Homo sapiens: one gene and its partners. The protein of the gene in region 2 interacts with the protein of the main gene of each other region in a biochemical or structural test. Each region holds a gene or a part of one and is shown on either strand. Other genes may lie near its edges. The genes, in order: DND1, APOBEC1 and A1CF.

Region 1 (6,952 bases), on a different chromosome or scaffold from region 2:
GAAGCTGCCCAGGGGTCCCTGACTGGTGTCTGTCTGCCTAGGTGTCCTGGGAAGAGGTGAAGAATGAGATGGTGGGAGAGAAGGGCCTTGCACCTGAGGTGGCTGACCGCATTGGGGACTATGTCCAGCAACATGGTGAGGAACAGAACCAAGCCTCCCCAGCAGCCGTCCCACTGCCCTCAGTCCTAAAGTTGAAACTGTTCTGTGTTATGTATGTAGGGGAGTGAGTGTGTCTATGCATATGTACACACACATGCATGGGCGACTAGAGTCCAGGCAAGAAGGTCAACCCTCCTTACCTTTTTTGTTTCCTTGTCAGCCTCACTCACAAGTCTGTCTCCCCAGGTGGGGTATCCCTGGTGGAACAGCTGCTCCAGGATCCTAAACTATCCCAAAACAAGCAGGCCTTGGAGGGCCTGGGAGACCTGAAGTTGCTCTTTGAGTACCTGACCCTATTTGGCATTGATGACAAAGTGAGTCAAGTTGGGGACGGGATCCCTTCTGAGCTCTGGGGCTTCAGGTCCCTGATCTTAATCTGGCACTGACCATTTTCTTATCTCCACAGATCTCCTTTGACCTGAGCCTTGCTCGAGGGCTGGATTACTACACTGGGGTGATCTATGAGGCAGTGCTGCTACAGACCCCAGCCCAGGCAGGGGAAGAGCCCCTGGGTGTGGGCAGTGTGGCTGCTGGAGGACGCTATGATGGGCTAGTGGGCATGTTCGACCCCAAAGGGCGCAAGGTGCCATGTGTGGGGCTCAGCATTGGGGTGGAGCGGATTTTCTCCATCGTGGAACAGAGACTAGAGGTAGGTCCTAGGAGGTAGGTAGAAGATAGTCTGAGCAGGTGGTGGCACCTAAGCTATCTGATCTCCAAGGGAGCAAGTGGTGCTGCTTTGGGCAGGGAGCATCTCACAGAAATGGAGAAAAGATTATTGCTCTTTTTCACAGATTTCTACCCCATTATATGTAAGTTTTATGGATCTTTAATCCATAATCTTTCTGCACTCAATCCTCTGCTCTGGGTCTCTACTTCCTTCAGGGCTGTCACAAACCTGGGCTGGTGTATCCAAGACTTAGATCTTCCTCATGATACGGAATACTTAACATTTTACTGCCTTGTGCCAGGCACTGTGCTTGGTGCTTTTCATGCATTATCAAAATATAATTGTTACTACAGCCCTGTGAGAGTAGCTAATTTTATTAATTGCATTTTCCAGATGAGAACACTGAAGCATTATAGATCAAATAATTTGCTTAAGGCCATGAAACTTGTAAGTGGTAGGGTCAGAATTTGAATCCAGGCAGTCTGACTCCAAAGTCTTGCCACTAACCACACTGCAATACTGTCTCTAAATGGGAAGCATGTGTCTGAGGCCCTGGGATCCCTCAGATGGCTACCGTGACTCTCTAGCACCTAGAGTAACACCAAGGAAGCCTCTTGTAGCCTCAAGCCCTCCTTTGTTGCTGCTGGTCTTAAGTGGCTGGTTGCATTTCATCTTCTGGGAAATGCTCTGGCAACCTCCCCACAGTCCTATGCCTTTTCTCTAGGGTGGAAACCACCCATTTCCCAGTTGAGATCATTTTTCCAGTAGGCATCTTACATTCTAAGAACTATGAAAATAGTTTTCCTGAAAAAGACAAGGGAAGCAGCAGCAGCATTCTCCTTTCCCCACACCCATATACACGCCTGTGCCCTGTAACTGAAGTGTGAGAGGCACAGTGTCATAAATGGGTAGATAGTAAGTGGGGACTAAAACTGTCAAGGGTGATCTAATTGGGGTGGGCTCATAGTAGTACTTCTGTGTGAATGCTTTGGTGGACCCTTAAGGTACTACATGGACCAGCCTGGGCAACATGATGAGACCCTGTCTCTACAGATTAAAAAAAAAAATTTTTTTTTTTTTTTAAATTAGCTGAGTATGGTGGTGTGTGCCTGTAGTCAGGAGGCTGAGGTGGGAGGATCACTTGAGCTTGGGAGGTCGAAGCTGCAGTGATCACACCACGGCACTTCAGCCTGGATGACAGAGACCCTGTCTCAAAAAAAAAAAAAAGGTACTACATGGAGATAAGCTTGAAGTTACTGTAAAAAAGCTACCTTTACTCTTGCCCTAAGTTATTTATTCTGATACGTCCTATGTACAAGTCAGTCAGTTCAGTCCTCATATCTACTAAAAGCTACCTTTATGCCCAAGGTGCTAGATGAGAAGACAGGGCCCCTGCCCTGGTAGAGCTGAGTTGGGCCTGGTCTCAAAATCCCGACTAGAGCCTGCTTTGTTTGCTCCTTGAAGGTGTTAGCCCAGCTCTCTTTTATCTGCCCCTTCCCCAGGCTTTGGAGGAGAAGATACGGACCACGGAGACACAGGTGCTTGTGGCATCTGCACAGAAGAAGCTGCTAGAGGAAAGACTAAAGCTTGTCTCAGAACTGTGGGATGCTGGGATCAAGGTATGGGAGGCAAGCCCCAGGGTGGCAGCAAACTTAGGTGTGCTGGACACAAACTGAATAAAAGCTCACCCATAATGGATCCTGCCATTACTTCTCAAAAGTAGAGCTAAGAACAGGGTGCCAGCTTGGACACCCTCTGTCCCTGAGGACAGCAGAAGCCAGCCTTCATCTTCTGCTCTTGTCCCCTGCAGGCTGAGCTGCTGTACAAGAAGAACCCAAAGCTACTGAACCAGTTACAGTACTGTGAGGAGGCAGGCATCCCACTGGTGGCTATCATCGGCGAGCAGGAACTCAAGGATGGGGTCATCAAGCTCCGTTCAGTGACGAGCAGGGAAGAGGTGAGGGAGGTGGGCAGGAAGGCTAAGGGACAGAGAATGTATGCCATTTTGGCAGGCCCATGCCCATTCAAGACCTGAGAAAAAGCCTGGCATTGATATTAGTACAACTCATAAAAGCCTTGAGGGCTTAACCTGTTACTGTGGTCTTAGTAGGGTGAGATCTCCATCCCTGCATATACCTTATGGTTTGTTGGCTCCCCCAAGAGGCACACTCTAGCCTGAGGTGTTTAATTAGGTTCCTGCTCCCAGCTGAGACAAGCCTGATGCCTAGAGGGCTAGAGGAAACTAGGCACTCGGGGAGCAGTGGAATGGAAGATGCTTATACCACCTTCTTCTCCCATCCTGGCCAGGTGGATGTCCGAAGAGAAGACCTTGTGGAGGAAATCAAAAGGAGAACAGGCCAGCCCCTCTGCATCTGCTGAACTGAACAAACTATCAGAGGAAAGGAAGTGGGACTGGCACTATTTGAGGTTAAGACAAACTGCATATGTACTTCAATTGCTTTGCACTTTTCCGTTTCAGCGGAAGACCTGAAGAGTGGTCAGAACAGAGCCTTTGATTTTTATTATGGTTATTTTATTGATTATTACTGGCAAAAACGGCCAGGTACAACACCTTTTTCATACAAGGCCCAGGAGGCTTAGTCCAGTCTGTGCTCCTGGGCTACAAGGACCCAGCCTGAGATGGTCCCATCTGCAGGGCCCCGCACCAGTTGGAGCAGATGCCTCCCCACCACCAATTGCCAAAGGTCCAATAAAATGCCTCAACCACGGAGTCTGCGTGTGTCAGTGATGCCTAGCCCCGCCTTCCCCAGCAGACCAATGTAGGGATGGAAAAGGGAGAAAAACAGTAAACTTGTGACCCTGAGGTTCTTGTCTCCAGCGTCCACCCTGCGGCTTGGGAGCTCCTCCTCGGGAGGCAGCCCCCGTACATACGCACCCGCGACTTTGCAGCTTTCACCTGAAGGTCTGAGCGAAGCCCGGGCGGCGCACGTGCAGTGGATACCTCCACCCCCCTGGGAGGCGGGGTCGCGCTCAGAGCCAATGAGAGCTTGCGGGGTGGAGGGGTAGGGAAGCTTCCAGAGGCCGGTGGGGAGGAAGTTATAAAGAGGGTACGAGGGGGCCAGCTGGAGAGCCATGCAGTCCAAGCGGGATTGTGAGGTAAGCGGCTGGCGACTTGGGGGCCGGCGAGCCCCGCCGGAGCGGGGGTCGGCTTTAGGGACCCCAGTACCACAGGAGAGGTGGGGGCGCGCTTGGCGATCCGCCATTCCAACCTTCCTTTCCCTCTCAGCTGTGGTGTGAGAGGGTGAATCCAGAGAACAAGGCGGCGCTGGAGGCGTGGGTCAGGGAGACAGGCATCCGCCTGGTGCAGGTGAACGGGCAGAGGAAGTATGGCGGGCCACCCCCAGGTACGGTAGTCCCAGCCCCTCCGCCTGTCCGGCTACACCAGCCCCCTTTGGGGGAGGGGCTGCTCCGAGCCTTCACTGTCAGAAACTGCGAACTACCCGGATTTATACCCCCCAGCAAAGGAGGAACTGTGGCTCCACGTCCACCCGCCCCGTCGAGGGAGGGGGCCAATCTCAAGGTGTACCTACTCTGTGCCAGCCCCCTTGTTAGCGCAGTCACCTAATTATGCCAACCACCCAGGGTACGGGTGTAAACCCATTTCACAGACCTTTGTTCACATCGCCTCCCACCCCCGCGCGCTGGGTCCGTGGGCTCAGAATTCGAAAGCGTCGCCTGACGGTGGCCTTGCATACCCTCTTCCCACAGGCTGGGTGGGCAGCCCGCCGCCAGCTGGGTCAGAGGTGTTCATCGGGCGGCTGCCTCAGGACGTGTACGAGCACCAGCTTATCCCGCTGTTCCAGCGCGTGGGCCGCCTCTACGAGTTCCGCCTGATGATGACCTTCAGCGGCCTGAACCGCGGCTTCGCCTATGCCCGCTACAGCTCGAGGCGCGGCGCGCAGGCCGCCATCGCCACGCTGCACAACCATCCGCTGCGGCCGTCCTGCCCGCTGCTCGTGTGCCGCAGCACCGAGAAGTGTGAGCTGAGCGTTGACGGCCTGCCGCCGAATCTGACCCGCAGCGCGCTGCTGCTCGCGCTGCAGCCGCTGGGTCCCGGCTTGCAGGAGGCGCGGCTGCTGCCCAGCCCCGGACCGGCGCCCGGGCAGATCGCTCTGCTCAAATTCAGCTCGCACCGGGCCGCTGCCATGGCCAAAAAGGCCCTGGTGGAAGGTAGGCTGGGGCGGGGGTGCTGGTTGGGGCCAAACGCGTTCTGCCCGGCACTTTATACTGAGCATAGCTGTTAAAGTTACAAGATCTTAGAGTCAAACATGCCAGAATTTGCAACCTTTTACTATTTGATCTCAGATTTTTAAAACTTCCAATGGTGCTACCACCACCGCTTACCTAAATTTGTGACACTTCCCGAGCATTACCTCCTGACTTAATTCTCAACCTTCCCCCACCCCCACACCGCAAAATAGGCACAGGACCCTCAAGCTATGAGGAAACTGTTAGAGAAATTGATTTGCTCAAGGGAATCCAACTGAGCTTTTTACTACTATAGAATCTGTTTCCTCAGACTGTTATGAGAATTAAGTAACATAATGGGTGTACGGTACTTAGCACACTGACTGACTTACAGCAAGTTTTCCCAGTAAAGATTAGCCATTATGATGGTTATGAGGCAGACAAAGCCTGCAATTAACCAGTACTTCTCCAAGGAAACTTGTAAGGTAGCAGTGTGTTATACTCCCTTTGCAAATAATGGAGGCTGAAGGCTTCATTGTCTTTTCTTACCCATGGTCACACTACCAGGAAATGGGAAGGCTACAAATAACAGGACTGTGTAGCTCCAAAGGGCTCACCACCTGGAGGCTTGGGCCCAGGGTTTAGACCTGCCCTTGTCTTTGCATTTTTCCTACAGGGCAGTCACACCTCTGTGGAGAGCAGGTGGCTGTGGAGTGGCTCAAGCCAGACCTGAAGCAGCGACTTCGCCAGCAGCTTGTGGGTCCCTTCTTGCGGTCCCCACAGCCAGAGGGCAGCCAGTTGGCTTTGGCAAGGGACAAGTTAGGGTTCCAAGGGGCTCGGGCTACCCTGCAGTTGCTGTGCCAACGAATGAAGCTGGGCAGCCCTGTGTTCCTCACCAAGTGTTTGGGCATAGGACCTGCTGGCTGGCACCGCTTCTGGTACCAGGTGGTGATTCCTGGGCATCCGGTGCCCTTCAGCGGCCTCATCTGGGTTGTGCTGACCCTAGATGGCCGGGATGGGCATGAGGTGGCCAAGGATGCTGTGTCTGTACGGCTGCTGCAGGCACTCAGTGAGTCTGGGGCCAACCTCCTGTGGTCTGCTGGGGCTGAGGCAGGTACCATGGTTAAACAGTGACTCCATTCTTTCTCCACAGGCACCCTGAATGGGCATGCAGAGCCTGTGTCAGGCCCCATCCCAGCAGGCCTGGGTGGCCACTTTCTGACCCCCAAAGGTGGGGAGGGGCATGGGCCCAGGCCCATCAGCCTCCCTGCTGGGACAGGGACCTATGGCACCTGGGGGCAGCTTAGGTTTGGGTTAAGTTGTGGTGAGGGGCCTTGCCCTCCCGCTCCCAGCCCAGGGTCCAACCTGACCCAGTGATCTTCCATGGCCGTTCCTTGTCCCACCCCCACCCGATCATACCTTCCCCCCTCTGCCACAGCTTAGCATGAATCTTCTTTATTGTCCTGATTTGTCCTCTTTGTTGGTTTTTATTTGTGGGGAAGGGCAGCTGAGCCAAAGGGGTCAGAAATTCTGCCCTTTGCCTCCACCACATGGCATTCTGGTTTTGGTTTCTGTATAGTTTTGGGTCTTTCTATGCTGGTTGTATTTATATTAAACCCCTGGTTAGTATATACTTGTGTCTGTGCTGTCTTGCCCTAGCTTAGAGTTTGTTTACACTGGTAGAGTGAATAGCTGCTACGGGGCAAGTACTTCCTCACATCAGTGCTTTGAGTGCATCTTCTTGTGTTGCACTGTAGGGTATTATAAATTCATATCCAGGCCGGGTGTGTTGGCTTTTGCCTGTAATCCCAGCACTTTGGGAGGCTGAGGCGGGTGGATCACCTGAGGTCAGGAGTTCGAGACCAGCCTGGCCAGCATGGAGAAACCCCGTCTCTACTGAAAATACAAAAATTAGCC
Region 2 (7,577 bases):
CTGCACCCGGCCAGGTTAGGTGTATTAAATGAATTTTCAACTTAACAATATTTTGCAATTATGATGGGATTATGGAGACATGACTTCATTGTAAACTGAGGAGCATTTGTATACAGATATGACAAAGCTTGTATCCACAATACGTAAAAAACTCTTACAACTCAGTAATGAGACAAAGAACCCAATTAAAAAATGGACAAGGCCAGGTGTGGTGGCTCACACCTGGTAATCCCAGCACTTTGGGAGGCTGGGGCAGGTGGATCACCTGAGGTCAGGAGTTTGAGACCAGCCTGACCAACATGATGAAACCCCATCTCTACTAAAAATGCAAAAATCAGCCAGGCATGGTGGCACACGCCTGTAATCCCAGCTACTCGGGAGACTGTGACAAGAGAATCACCTGAACCCGGGAGGAGGAGGTTGCAGTGAGCCAAGATGGGGCCATTGTACTCCAACCTGGGCAACAAGAGCAAAATTTTGTCTCCAGGGTGGGTGGGAGGTGGGCGAGGTAGGGAGGGAAGACAAAAAATTTGAACAAGTTTCAGAAAAAAGATATATAAATAACTAATAAGTACATGAAAAGATGTTCATTGCATTTAATTTTAATGCAAATTAAAATCACAATGAGATACTACCACACACTCACAAGTATGATTGTAACTAACAGGGCTGACATTACTAAGTACTGATGAGGTTGTATAACAATTGGGGCTCTCTTATACACCTGATGAAAATGTAAACTGGTAACAACAATTTGGCATTTTCTTCAGTTAAATGTAGCTGGGTGTAGTGGCTCACACCTGTAATCCCAGAACTTTGGGGAGGCCAAGGCAGGAGGATTTCTCAAACCCAGGAGTTCAAGACCAACTTGGGCAATATAGTGAGACCCTGTCCCTATAAAAAATAAAATCAATTTTTTAAAAAAGAGTTAAATGTGCATTTACCTATTTGATCCAGCAATTTCACTCTTGGGTATTTACCCAAGAGGAAGAAAAAGAGACATGTTTACACAAAGAATTGTATACAAATGTTCACAGCAGCTTTATTCATGAAAGCCTAAAATTGGAAATAACCCAAAGTACATCACATCGACAGAAGAATATACAAATCGTAGCATACCTATGCAATGGAATACTATTCAGCAATGAAAATTAACCACCAATACACCTAATCATGTAGACCGATTTTACAGAAAAGCTGAAGAACAGCCTGGCCAACATGGTGAAACCCCGTCTCTACTAAAAATACAAAAAGTTGTATAGTGAGACCCTGTCTCAAAAAAAAAAAAAGGAAAAGCTGAGCAAAAGAACACACAAAAGTGTGCACAATGCATGATTCCATTTGTATGAAGTTCTATAATAGTCAAAACTAAACTATAGAGACAGAAAGAGCAGTATTTGCCTGGGACTAGGAGTAGGAGGATAGCTGCTAACACACAGAATTGGGGGGTGCTGGCCAGGCATGGTGGCTCACACCTGTAATCCCAGCACTTTGGGAGGCCAAGGTGGGTGGATCACTTGAGGTCAGGAGTTCGAGACCAGCCTGGCCAACACGGTGAAACCTCATCTCTACTAAAAGTACAAAAATTAGCTGGGCATGGTAGTGCATCTCTGTAATCCCAGCTACTTCTTGCAAGGCTGAGACATGAGAATGGCTTGAACCCGGGGGGCTGAGGCTACAGTGAGCCAAGGTCAAGCCACTGCACTCCAGCCTGGGCGATAGAGGAAGACCCTGTCTTAAAAAAAAACAAAAAAACAAAAGAACTTTTGGGGTGATGGGAATTTTAAATATCTTGACTGGAGTAGTTACATAAGTGTATGTATACATTTTTCAAAATTCATAAATTTTCAGGTGCAGGACAGACTTAAACTGAATAGCTACATTTCATCCTTGATTATCTTTGACCTCACTTACAAATAATTAACCACATGATAGTCTGTCATATGTCATAGTTCCAAGTTTTCTTAAACAAAACAGAACATGGACGAAGCGCTCAATAGGCATTCTAGTAGAAAACAAACCCAAGTTTTGCACCCTCTTGGCTGCTGCATGTTTACTTCCTGGGAGCATGTCCTACCATATCAGTTTCCTATTGCCGCTTCATGAAATTGCCACAGACTTAATGGTATAAAACGACACACATTGTTTTATAGTTCTGGAGGTCTGAAGTACAAAACAGGTCTCACTAAGCTGACATCAAGGTGTCATCAGGGTAGCATTTCTTCTGGAGGCTCTGGGGGAGAATCCATTCCTTGCCTTTTCCAGCTTCTACAGGCTTTCCTCATTCCTTGAATCGTGGCTCCCTTTGAGCCAGCAAGCAGAATTCTGCTCTCATCCTCATATCTCCATTTCGCATCCTGACTCTGACTCTTCTACCTCCCTCTTATAAGGACCCTGTGATTAGACTGTGCCCACCTGCATAATCCAGGATTGTCTTCTCATCTCAAGATTTTTAATTAACGACAAAGACCCTTTTGGCACTTAAGTTCATATGTTTAACAGATTCCAGGGATCAGGACATGGATATCGTTGATGGCTATTATCTTACCTTTTTTTTTTTTTCTTTTTTTTTTTAGACGTAGTCTCACTCTGTTGCCCAGGCTGCAGTGCAATGGTGAGATCTCGGCTAACTGCAAACTTCCCTCCTGGGTTCGAGCAATTCTCATGCCTCAGCCTTCCGAGAAGCTGGGATTACAGTCACCTGCCACCACACCCAGCTGACTTTTATATTTTTAGGAGACTGGGTTTTGCCATGTTGGCCAGGGTGGTCTTGAACTCCTGACCTCAGGTGATCCTCCCATCTCTGCCTCTCATAGTGCTGGGATTACAGGCGCGAGCCACTGCGCCTGGCCTAACCTACTTTTATTCTACAATGATTCTACTCTTACCTAACTTAGAAAAACTTGGTCTCTGAAGGGCCTTTATTGATGATGTGGGATTTCTGCCCCTTCTTCAAAACACTGGTCTGCCCCTGTCGAAACACCTGCTTTATCTCATGGAGGCTCCAGGTTGACTTTCATAACTAAGTAAAGTCTTGTATGTAGGATTCGGGTTTCAGGTTCATGGGGCCTTGAGATTCAAAGTTCAGGAGTTCTAGATTTGAGACACTAGAGGGAGACTTAGGCCTTGAAAAAGTGACCTCAATTCTAGGAGTAAGTGCTGAGACTCAGAGGAATTTTTGGCTTGAACTTGACCCAGGGTTCAGGCAACAGAGAGCAATGGCATAGGGAAGTATGGCATTTACTTTTTCAAGGGGGATAAAAAAGCAGAAGTGGCTGGGAGAGGTGGCTCACGCCTGTAATCCTAGCATTTTGGGAAGCTGAGGCGGGTGGATCACCTGAGGTCAGGAGTTTGAGACCAGCCTGGCCAACATGGAGAAACCCTGTCTCTACTAAAAATATAAAAATTAGCCTGGTGTGGTGGTGGGTGCCTGTAATCCCTGCTACTTGGGAGGCTGAGGCAGGAGAATCACTTGAACCTGGGAGGCAGAGGTTGCAGTGAGCCGAGATCGCGCCATTGCACTTCAGCCTGGGTGACAAGAGCGAAACTCTGTCTCAAAAAAAAAAAAAAAGGGCAGAAGTGGACTTGGCCACACACTTAATCTTAGATTCAAGGATGAAGAGAGCACCAAAGACCTGTACACAAATTAGCTGACTCAGAGGCCAAGGTCCTTCTCATTTTGTATCTAATAGCTCCCCTCCCCTCTCCAACACGGATGTAGGACAGAGAGCAAAATGAGAGGAAGTTGGAAATAGGTGAATAACAGCTGAAAGCCAAGGCCACAGTGTGCTCACCAGATAACATAAAAATTTTCAAGCTATAGTTACAGATTAAGTCTCTCTTAACTTTATTTTTCCTCTCATCTCTCCATTAAAGAATGATGCATCCTAGGCTAGGCACGGTGGCTCATGCCTGTAATCCCAGCACTTTGGGAGGACGAGGCGGGTGGATCACCTGAGGTCAAGAGTTCAAAAACAGCCTGACCAACATGGTGAAACCCCGTCTCTACTAAAAATACAAAAAATTAGCCGGGCGTGGTGTTGGGCGCCTGTAATCCCAGCTACTCGGGAGGCTGAGGCAGGGGAATCGCTTGAACCTGGGAGGCAGAGGTTGCAGTGAGCCAAGATTGTGCCATTGCACTCCAGCCTGGGCGACAAGAGCAAAACTCCGTCTCAAAGAAAAAAAAAAAGAATGATGCATCCTTGATGCAGAGTAGGAGATAATGAAAAATAAATAAATAAAACAAAACAAAACAAAAAAGAATGATGGATCCACCTTGCCTTAATCTTTATTTAAAGAAAGAGAAAGTTTACCAAATTCAGATGTCATTGAAGAACTTTGGAATTTGGTACCCAGTGATCCACCCTACAAAATTCATGTCATTTGCATCATAGGCTTTCTCATCACTAAAGATGCAAATCCCCACGATAATGTCCCTCTCAGTCGGCCCCCTGTTTGTACAGACAGCTCAGATTCCCATAACTGCCTGAGATGCGGGAATGAGTCATCCTCTGCCCAAGCAGGTGGCAGTGGGCACACCTGAAGCAACAAAGTCCAGGAACAATCAGCACAACTTATGACTCCAGAGGAGGAAGTCCAGAGACAGAGCACCATGACTTCTGAGAAAGGTAAAATGGATCCGGGGGCTTGGCAAGTATTCTTGAACAATGCAAGAATGGTGTGTGTGTGTGTGTGTGTGTGTGTGTGTGTGTGTGTGTGTGTGTGTGTGTGTCCTGCTGATTCTTGCATCTGTGGGTGTTTTCAAACTTCCCTATTATTGATTAATATATTAGTCTTAAATAAGATGGTTTATTATTAGTAAATATTTACATCTCCAAGTGACTTTAACCAAATCAGTGTTTGTTTCACCATGATAAAAAATTAAGTAGCCAGGCGCTGTGGCTCACACCTGTAATCCCAGCACTTTGGGAGTCCAAGGAGGGTGGATCACTTGAGGCCCAGGGTTTGAGACCAGCCTGGCCAACATGGTGAAACCCTATCTGTACTAAAAATACAAAAATTAGCCAGGCATGGTGGCGCATGCCTGTAGTCCCAGCTACTCGGGAGGCTGAGGCAGGAGGATCACTTGAACACAGGAGGCGGAGGTTGCAGTGACCTGAGATCACGCCACTGCACTCCAGCCTGGGCAACAGAGCAAGACTCTGTCTCACAAAAATAAAAAAAAAGTTAAGTAAAAGTACAACTGTTTAAATAACAGTTTAAGGTAACAACAGACGTGATAGCATGAGAACAATGTGCTAATTGACAAATGAATTGACTATAACTAATTGATAAATTTGTGCACAGTCAGTGTTAGAAAAATGCATGGGAGAGGAAGAACACTTCAGGCTGAAGGAAGTAATTTCAGCTGAGCTAGGATTTGAGCTGGATTCTAAGAGAAGTGTAGACCTAAAAAAATTTTTATCTTATTTTGTTTTTAGAGACTAGCGGGTGGGTTCACTACTTCGCCCAGGCTGGTCTGGAACTCCTGGGCTCAAGCAATTCTCCACCCTTGGTCTCTCAAAGTACTAGGAATACAGGCATGAGCCACCATGCCTAACCAAATTTTTTTTTTTTTTTTTTTAAGACTCGCCCTGTTGCCTAGGCTGGAGTACAGTGGTGTGATCACTGCTCACTGCTGTCTTGACCTCCTGGGCTCAAGAGATCCTCCCGCCTCACCTTCCTGGGTAGCTGGGACAACAGGCATGGGCCACCAGCCCTGCTAATTTTTTTGTAGAGATGAGGTCTTGCTTTATTGCTCAGGCTGGTCTTGAACTCCTGGGCTCAAGTGATCCACTAGCCTCGGCCTCCCAAAGTACTGGGATTACAGGTGTAAGCCACCATGCCAGGCCAGAAGGGCAGACTTTGGATCGACAAAGAAGAGGAGATTCCAGGTTGATTGAATCCTATTGATGAACAGAATTTAAAAGCTTTTATAGAGACTTGTGTCTGGAATATAATGAATAAACTGGTTAGGCTACAAAAAATTTATGTAAACAATTTGCAGTAAGACCAGAAAGCAAATTTGAAGTGTTATTATACTATAGAGGACTTCGAATGCCAGGCTCAAGGAATGAAAGTTTTTCTTTATGGTAGAGGGAATATCTTTGGAGAATTTATGAATAGCACAGAGATATGACTAAAATAGTGCTTTAGACACATTTACTTGACATGTGATGGGTTTTGGACTGGAAGCAAGGAGACCAGTTAGAAGACTATTGCAATAGTGTGAGTGTGATGGGGCAGAAGGTAATATAGATATCAGTTTGGAGTTGAAGTAACAATTTATTTTCTCCTTTATGTTCTTCATCTGTTAGAATTCTTTTTTAAGGTCAGGTGTGATGGCTCACACCTGTAATCCCAGCACTTTGGGAGGTCAAGGCAGGCGGATCACCTGAGGTAGGGAGTTTGAGACCAGCCTGACCAACATGGAGAAACAACGTCTCTATTAAAAATACAAAATTAGCTGGGCACGGTAGCACATGCCTGTAATCCCGCTACTTGGGAGGCCAAGGCAGGAGAATCACTTGAACCAGGGAGGCGGAGGTTGCAGTGAGCCGAGATCGCGCCATTGCACTCCAGCCTGGGCAACAAGAGCAAAACTCCATCTCGGGAAAAAAAAAAAAATTCTTTTTTAAGTGGCATACTGGGGGAAAGACCAAACACATTATTTGATTGTAGTAGCTAATACCTTCCCTGGACTTTTCTTATGAAGGTGGTGTGTTCTATACCTCAAACTGTCCCCAGTCATGTGGCTGGTATCCTTGTCTTTGCATCCCAGGAATAATATTGATCAGTGTAGACACAGCATATGTCTCACCGTCCCTTTCTGAACTTCTCACTGCTGCTTCAGCTCTTTCAGAGAAAGTGTCTTCCCATCATCAAATGCCTTTTTCCTATGATGTGGCCTCTGTTTATGTAAGGCTCCCTCGGAGTAGATTACTGGTTCAAGGGCCCCAATTTGCACTAAGATCTGAGAAGAGCTCATTCCAACGTGCCAGCCACCCCCTTCCTCCTTCCTCCCAATGCTCAAATCCCCCATTCCTCCTTTAAAAGTAAGAGATTTGTTCTTCAGGTCACACTTGGAATAGTGTTTCCTGACTTCGTCCTATTTCCTAGATATCTGGCTAATTTCTCATTTTAGTTCTTCTCCCCAGCTAGAACCACTCTCTGCAAAAAAACCATGCCATGCCCAAGTCCTTTCTACAACTCCTCTACCATCCAGTGCAAATGCATAAAAAGTAACACACACAAACAGGTACACACACAGCCTAGGGTAAAGCATGCTCTGTTTTAAAGGAAGTGTCTTCCAGAGCCTGTGACTCTTCTCTGTTCAAAAATAGCACCTGCGAGTTAAGGTTTGGCCAGGAGCGTGGGATGAATTTCTTGCCTGCATCTCCCCAAATCACCCTTAGAGGTTCAGGCCTTGTCAGCGCCCATTTTATTGCCAGGAACATCCCCAAGCCTCTGAGTCCTGAGAGGCGCAGGTCTCTAAAATTCAGTACTCTCCCTTGAATCATCCCCATACTCTCTAATGGCTTCTTACACTTAGCATACTATCCAGAGCTGGTAAGGCC
Region 3 (7,703 bases), on a different chromosome or scaffold from region 2:
GCCAGGCTGGTCTCGAACTCCTGACCTCATGATCCACCTGCAAGAGATATTTTTATTGAGCCAGGGCAGGGAGGATGGTGGCAGGGAAGGAAGCTTCTTATTCTTGGTAATCTTTGACTTTTAGTTATATTTTGTTTTTTTTTTAAGCTTTACGTTTTGCCTTCACCAGCAAAAATTAATGATTTTTACCTAAATGTACTCTGATAGTGAAAGCAAGATTCGTTAAAATCCATAAGCCAAATATTTCATGTATGAATGATTGATCATTGCAACCACCGAATGAGTACTTACTATGGACCTGGTATAGCCTATTTTTGTAAGTCTCTTCTTTTTTGAGCATTCTCATTTCAGCAAATAGTATCACCATCCAGCCAATGGCTGCATTCAGTAATTTGAGACTTGTCCTTTAGATGTCATGCCCTGCTCAGTTCCCATATCCTCTTGATGATTTACCTCCTACACATTTCATGGACCTTGTCTACTTTTCTCTTTTCCCAGAGCCACCACCCTAATCTTAACTACCATCACCTGCCACCTCCCCTCTTACTGGTCTCTTTTAGATGCTTTGCCTCCTTCAAGTTCAAATCACCAACTTACTTGAATATGTACAAGAGTAAAATTATTCTAAGACAACAAAAAAAAAAAAAAAAAAAGGAGAGAAGCAGGCAGTGTTATCCCATGGCAATTTATTCTCCACTCTACACCCAGAATCTACACAAATAGTCCAAGTGGCTCCCCTTCTTCAGATGCTTCCGTGACTTCCTTCCCATTGGCCCTGGATAATGCTGGGAATCTAGTGATGGCCCTTTATGAATCGTCTGACTTGGCTACCTACTCCAGTCAATTTCCCCATCATTTTCCCTCTTGCCCTTCACAACCGACCTTCTACCAGTTTTTTGAATGTGCCTAACTCATGCGAACTCAGGGCATCCCTATGAGCTATTTCCACTCACTAGAATGCCCACCTCCCATCCACACATCCTTCAGGTCTCAGCTTAAATGTCTTGTGTTCTGGAAGGCTTTCCTCAAGTACCTCCCAACCCACCCAGCCCTACACAAGGTTAGGTCCCTATGTTTTATGTTCTGTTTAGCATTCTGTACTTCTCCTTCATAACACTTATTACAACTATAATTAGTTAATCATTGGGGTATATGCTTAATGTGTGTACCTTCCATCTGGTCTGTTAACCACTGAATCCCTTAAGACTAGCACAGTATTTTCCAAACGCTTAAAATTGTGATCCACAATAAAAAATAAAGTTTACTTCATAACCAATACACACAGATAGATACATAATTAGAAAAAAAGTTTCATAAATAGTATTACCCCTTTCTTTTTTGTTTTTTGGTTTTTTTGTTTGTATTTTTTTTGAGACAGTGTCTCGCTCTGTCACCCAGGTTGGAGTGCAGTGGCCCGATCTCTGCTCACTGCAAGCTCCGCCTCCCAGGTTCGCGCCATTCTCCTGCCTCAGCCTCCCGAGTAGCTGGGATTACAGGCACCCACCACCACGCCCAGCTAATTTTTTGTATTTTTAGTAGAGACAAGGTTTCACCGTGTTAGCCAGGATGGTCTTGATCTCCTGACCTGGTGATCCGCCTGCCTCGGCCTCCCAAAGTGCTGGGATTACAGGCATGAGCCACCGCGCCTGGCCAGTATTACCCTTTCTAGATGCAATTCACTTGATATTTTCTGTTCTATTTTAATATGTTAGATACAACCCACTTTATTGATTTTATAGCCTACTAATAGACTCAAATCTCATTTTAAGTAATCACCTTTCTAATGCAACACTTAGCAGAGAGAAGTTTCTCAGTAATTGTTTGTAGAATAAAGTAATAGAAAATTCACATTTACCAGCCACTATCTAAACTGGTTTATTTTTACAAAGTAAAGGCAAATCTTGCCATCCTGGGTACAGTTAGCTCTCTTGATTAGACTGATGAGATCAAGGTCATAAATTTGATCTCATTCTGATGGATTGGTTTCTCTGTCCCAGGGCCAGAGACTTTCTCTCTAAGTACCCCTCAGAAAAAGAAAGGCTGATCCATTGTTTTTATTTTTATTCCTGATCAGTGTATTCCTATCCTTGTAACAAAATGGTTTAAAAAACAAAAGCAATAAAAATAGAAAGCAATAACCTAATAATTCATTACTACCAAATTCATTACTACCACTGGCTGTTAGGAGTAATATATGAATTGTCCTACGGAAATCATCAGATTTTGGGTTAATGCGATTGTAGTCCTGCCCTGTTGAATGCCAGGATCCATCAAATAAGCAACTGACATGTTTTTAATAACTGGTTACAATAGACTGAATGTTTGTGTTTCTCCTAAAATTAATATGTTGAAACCCTAACCCCCAATGTGATGGTATTTGGAAATAGGTCCTTTTGGAAGTAATTATGGTTAGAGTAGGTCATGAGGCTAGGTCCCTCATGACCCTCAGGACCTAGGTCCCTCATTTTAAAAATAGGTGCCCTTATTTTTAAAAAGGAGAAGACATGAGATCTCTCTTTCTGCATGCATGCACCAAGGAAGGCCATGTAAGGACATAACCAAAAAGAGGGTCCTGCTGGCACCCTGATTTTGGATTTCCAGCCTCCAGAACGATGAGAAACAAGTGTTTGTTGTTGAAGCTACCCACTGTATGGTTTTCTTTTTGTTTTCTTTTGTTTTGTTTTTAGATGAAGTCTCACTCTGTTGCCCAGGCTGGAGTGCAGTGGCATGATCTTGGCTCACTGCGAACTCCACCTCCCGGGTTCAAGTGATTCCCCTGCCTCCGCCTCCCAAGTAGCTGAGACCACAGGTGTGCACCACCATGCCCAGCTAATTTTTTTGTATTTTAGTAGGGATGGGGTTTCGCCATGTTGGACAGGATGGTCTCAATCTCCTTACCTTGTGATCCACCTGCCTCAGCCTCCCAAAGTGCTGGGATTACAGGCATGAGCCACCACACCCAGCCTTGTATGGTATTTTATTATAGTAACCTGAATGGACTGAGACTCTAGTTAATATCGTTCCTTTTACCTGTTGTGTTTTGGTGTTTCCATCAGATGCCTAAAAATCCTAGCTTTCCTTTCTTCATCTCCACTTATCACCATCTAAGCCCCTATCACAAAAAACAATAAAAGAAACCCTCTCAAAACTGTCCATCTTACAACATCAACAGTTCTTTATTGGACTGGGCAAACTCAAAGAATTCCCCACTCAATTGGGAACCATGCAACCCCAGACTGAGCTTTCACTAGGAAACCATCAGGGCTACTTTGTGAGGGAATCCCTTCCCAAGAAGGAAGTAGAGGGATGTGTCCCTCATTCAGCTATCTAGCTGGGTGGGGCATAAATGCTTTCTCTAGGTCTAACATCAGGGGAGCAATTCTGGGGTAAAACAATTGTTCCTGGGGTGTTTTTGTTAAACTCTATCATCCATTGCTATGGGAAAATGGTAAATCATTTCATGTTTGAGAACTGAAATAATTCCATGTTTGAGAACTAAAAACTGTAAGCAGAACTAGCATTCCAACAGTATCTTTTATCTCTTCTCTTACATATTCATAGATGTGCTTAATTGATGGATCTTCCTTTGCGTCTATATTATAGAAGGATTGCTTGTTTTGTGCTTTTCTATAGACAAAAATGCTCTCTTAATAGTTGGTTCCTAGAAAATTAGACTCCTTTTACTAGAACTAAAGGCAAGTAGGGGTATCCTCTAATTCTAGTTTTGGAATGTGTGGTTTCCAAGCTCTTAAACCAAAATTTACTCAAAATTAGGAAGGTTTTGGTTCTTCTTCCTTTTTTAAATGTGGGCTTTATTACCCTTAGGGATTTCTTCTGTAGACTACAGCTCTTACCAGAGAACTCAGAGTATAATGTTTGTATTTCTGAAAGCACCATTTCTCTATTTTTCAAGAAACTCAGTTACCACTGAGATTTCAGGCAATGAACAATAGCATCAGCTATCATATAACCCCAGTATGTAGCTGATTATTGTGCTTCTCACACAGTGGCCTCCTCTTAAAATCTAAATGAGCAGCTTGTATACAAAGAAGTATGCTTTCCCCAACCTGATCTGGCCTAAATCTATCTACTTTGTTATATAAATGCTTTGTGTATTTTCTGTTTGTAAGCCAGCATTTATCTACGTACTTGACCTAAAACTCCACACTTTACTCCATGTAATATAGTGATATAAAAAGTGTAAAACAAAGAAATATTCTCCTAAATTACCTTAGCTATAATATCACTTTGACATAGTAAAAAACAAAGGAAGTAACATAAAGGAAAGCTTAGGTATCCAATTGCAGTGAGTTTTTACTTTTTAAATATATCGTATAAGCCAATAAAATATCTTCAAAATAATATTTACCCCAACATTTTTACAACATTTATTTTAATTTTATAAACAAATAACAAAGATAGTTTTAGTAGATTATATCTGGGCTGTAGTGACCCAATTATCTGGTCAAAGGGCTGCATGGATGCAAGAGACAGGGTGAGTTAAAGTTTAACTCCCAGGAATTGTAAACCAAACCTAAAGCCACTGAACCTTTGGAGTTTGATATGACGATTAGAGCATAACCCGAGTGACACGTTGAATTCGCCATAATCAAGGAAACCTTTTCCGGGTGGGGATCTCTGAAATTACTCAGGTATGATCCATGTGTTTTGCTTTTTTCTATTTCAACTCTGTGAAACTGTGTATTGTGGTATCAGTGGGAATGCAGTGAAAACAGCTTTTACCCTCTTCTGTTATCGAGCCTAATTCAAAGAATTATCTAGCTTGTTTTTAGACTAATGAAACAACCAGAAAACAAAAGAATATATTGGAATTATTATATAATCTCTAAATGAGATAGCTGCCAGGATTTAATAAATTTCTGTAGACTTACCACGGAGGGTTCAAGAGTGGAGCCAATGTTGTGAGAAGTTTATTTAGCTCTAACCAGACAGCAGGGAGAGTTGTGGTTGAGTGCCTGTCCCAATCCTAGGACCCTGAGAAACAAAAATATAATTAACAAAAGAAATAGTATTAACATCACCAGCAGATTTTGAGTTCTGTGTGTGGGTCATAATTCCTATCATACTTTAGACTTCATATATTCAATTATCTCCAGAGCTACTACCACCATAAAAAAGAAAGTCTTGGTACAACTCTTGCGATTCCGCCTGCCATTATCTTGCTAACCAAAGGAATGTTTAAACTATTCACTTTTGATTCTGACCAAAAAAATATTATGGAAAATGACTGGTTTTCAGTGTGTTAAATCTGAACCTTGGAATGGCTAATTATTATATTGTTTCCACAATTTGGGCAACTGTGCTGAGGTGGATATATTTTCACATATTTTTTTTGTGTACTCCAAAAACATTATAATGGTATTTTAGCTAAAGAAAGAAATCAATCTGGACATTTACCAAAAATATCCCATTTTTACCAGAAACCCCCTAAACTCTCTGACTTTTTGTCATGATTACCTATGTAAATTCCAAGAAGAAAGGATTCCAAACTAAACAATTTTATTTACTATAGGACTTTTCAGATATGTATTGTATATCTCCAAGAAGATGAAGAACACAGCATTATTTGCACATTGTGCAGGATTAGTGTTTTATAGATCGTATTTTGGCAAATTCAGCTCTAGTTATAGTTTAGGAGCATCAAAAAATGTGTTGGTCTGCTCTGAAATTTTCTTTATAACGTGTGCTATGGAGCATGCAATGGGAGCACAGGTCTGGAAATGACAGTGATATCACTTATTTGTCAAAGCAGTAAGGTTTTGCCCTGCTAAATACAGAGAAAGAGACAAATGACTTATAAGGTTCATACTTTCTGGAATAACATTGACTCTGCCCATTTCAGACAACTCTTAACATTTTACTGTTCTATTTTACTATTTATCGATTTCAAGGGAAAAAAGAAGACAGCTGGCAAGGAAAAGAAATATTGTTGTGGGCAAACATTATAAAATGACATAATGGATATTAAAACACTATAAATACTTTGTTCTTATTTTCTACTGCACTAATGCCAAGGTGGTTTTATGTCATTTCAAATATCAACATTTCCTACACTATATTCAGTGGATGTTAATAAATGTGGCTCAAAAGAAAAGCAACTCCATTGTCAAGTAAGTTGAGGAAACAGTGTTAGAAAAGTTATAGCAGGTTTTGTTACCACATGAGTGTTTTGAGTAATAATGATAACAAGCATCTGTGAAGCACTATATTATCGGGTCTACTTCTAAGTTCTCTCCATGCATTATCTCATGTTATTCTTGGAACAACTCTATGGTGTGATACTATTATAACAGTTTATAAATGGGAAAATGGAGGCACAGACAAATTACCTAACAGGCTCAGCTACTCAGTTAGCAAGTGGCAGAGCCAGGCTCCTTTGTCTGGTAGTCTGATCCAGAGCCCAAGCACGTAACCATTATATCATACGCTCGAGCACTGGGGACTCATGACACATGCAAATATTGTCATTTATCACAACTATCTAAGAGAGTAGGCAACGTTTTGTTTCCTGGGCTTAATTTACAACAGAACATCTTCTTTCAGGAACATCTATCAATATCTCTCAAAATTGGCATTTCTCAGAATACAGAACAAGAAAGACCAAATCGCTTTTATAGCCCATGTCCAGCATTCAGAACAATCAGAATCCATTGAAATAATCACAGTTGAAAAATCTAAAGGACTTTAGAGTCTAGTCTTCCACCAAATAGGACTATGCCTATCTGAGAAACTTTTAAAATTAATTACGGAAAGAACACTAGGCTTTGTGCCTCGACACAGCTAAGTGGAAACGCCTATTGTAAAACTCCCTAGGTTTGTGACCTTGGGCATATTGTTTGACTCCACTGAATCTCAGATTCCTCAAATGTGAAATGGGGGTAAGATCTGACCCATAGTATTTTGTGAAGTTTAAATTAGATGATAAAGCAAAGGAGAGAAATGTGGTCCCCGGTACTTAAGAATTCAGCAAAAACCCCACTTCCCTTTTCATTTTCCTATTTGTAACAACCTCCAGAAAAATTTTCTAAAATTGCCCAAGTATACCTATTAGGCCTTGTTTTTCAAAACAATACTAATAAAGTTGAAATCACAAACTGTACATAAAAAATTTTGATTAATCACAAATAGTAGCACTATTCCATTTATTCAGAGAAAGACAGTCTGTAAATTTTTTTAGTATTAAAGCACACACACAGAGTATATTTTTATTTTAGAGATTATTGCTGAAGAAAACTCTTAGTTATAAAACCCCAACACCTTTTCACCCAAACCCATGGGACACCCTGACACAGTGCATGCTCATTTCATCATGGAGGCAGTTGATGTTAAAAATCTGTTTCAGTAACTGTCTTTTAAAAATTGTCATCCCTTAGAAAGCTGAGTAGTACTGTGGGTACTATTGCACAATGGTTTTCATTACCTTATGTGTCTCTAAAATGACTCAATAAGTTCAAACAAGACAGTATTGATCGACAGAGGATAAACACCATTTTATCTTATTCACAGAAACAGTAACCAGGCTCCTGCAAAGTGCAGCTCTCACAATCCAACTGCCCCCAGGAAAAGCATCTGGAAAAGGAGCAGCACTCTTGCGGTGACATTCTGTATTAGAAATCTGTATCCCATCTGCTCCTTGGCCTGATCCTGTAAAATCTGGAGAGTTATTAACAAATGTTTGCTGC

Evidence for each region.
Region 1: the proteins of APOBEC1 (region 2) and DND1 form a complex in vitro, tested with the Homo sapiens proteins (one study listed by BioGRID).
Region 3: the proteins of APOBEC1 (region 2) and A1CF form a complex in vitro, tested with the Homo sapiens proteins (one study listed by BioGRID).

What each region holds. Positions count from the first base shown.
Region 1 is NC_000005.10:140,670,510-140,677,461, reverse strand, and holds DND1 (dead end protein homolog 1), read left to right. Parts: upstream 1-3,885; 5' UTR 3,886-3,919; coding exon 3,920-3,943; intron 3,944-4,073; coding exon 4,074-4,191; intron 4,192-4,555; coding exon 4,556-5,017; intron 5,018-5,116; exon of another isoform or gene 5,117-5,711; coding exon 5,712-6,169; 3' UTR 6,170-6,668; downstream 6,669-6,952. Other genes in the region: HARS1 (histidine--tRNA ligase, cytoplasmic), read left to right, coding at 42-135, 346-473, 566-808, 2,329-2,445, 2,637-2,783, 3,134-3,205.
Region 2 is NC_000012.12:7,662,908-7,670,484, reverse strand, and holds the start of APOBEC1 (C->U-editing enzyme APOBEC-1), read left to right. Parts: upstream 1-4,576; 5' UTR 4,577-4,612; coding exon 4,613-4,628; intron 4,629-7,577. UniProt on the Homo sapiens protein: Cytidine deaminase catalyzing the cytidine to uridine postranscriptional editing of a variety of mRNAs. Form complexes with cofactors that confer differential editing activity and selectivity.
Region 3 is NC_000010.11:50,882,530-50,890,232, reverse strand, and holds the start of A1CF (APOBEC1 complementation factor), read left to right. Parts: upstream 1-4,605; 5' UTR 4,606-4,652; intron 4,653-7,703. UniProt on the Homo sapiens protein: Essential component of the apolipoprotein B mRNA editing enzyme complex which is responsible for the postranscriptional editing of a CAA codon for Gln to a UAA codon for stop in APOB mRNA.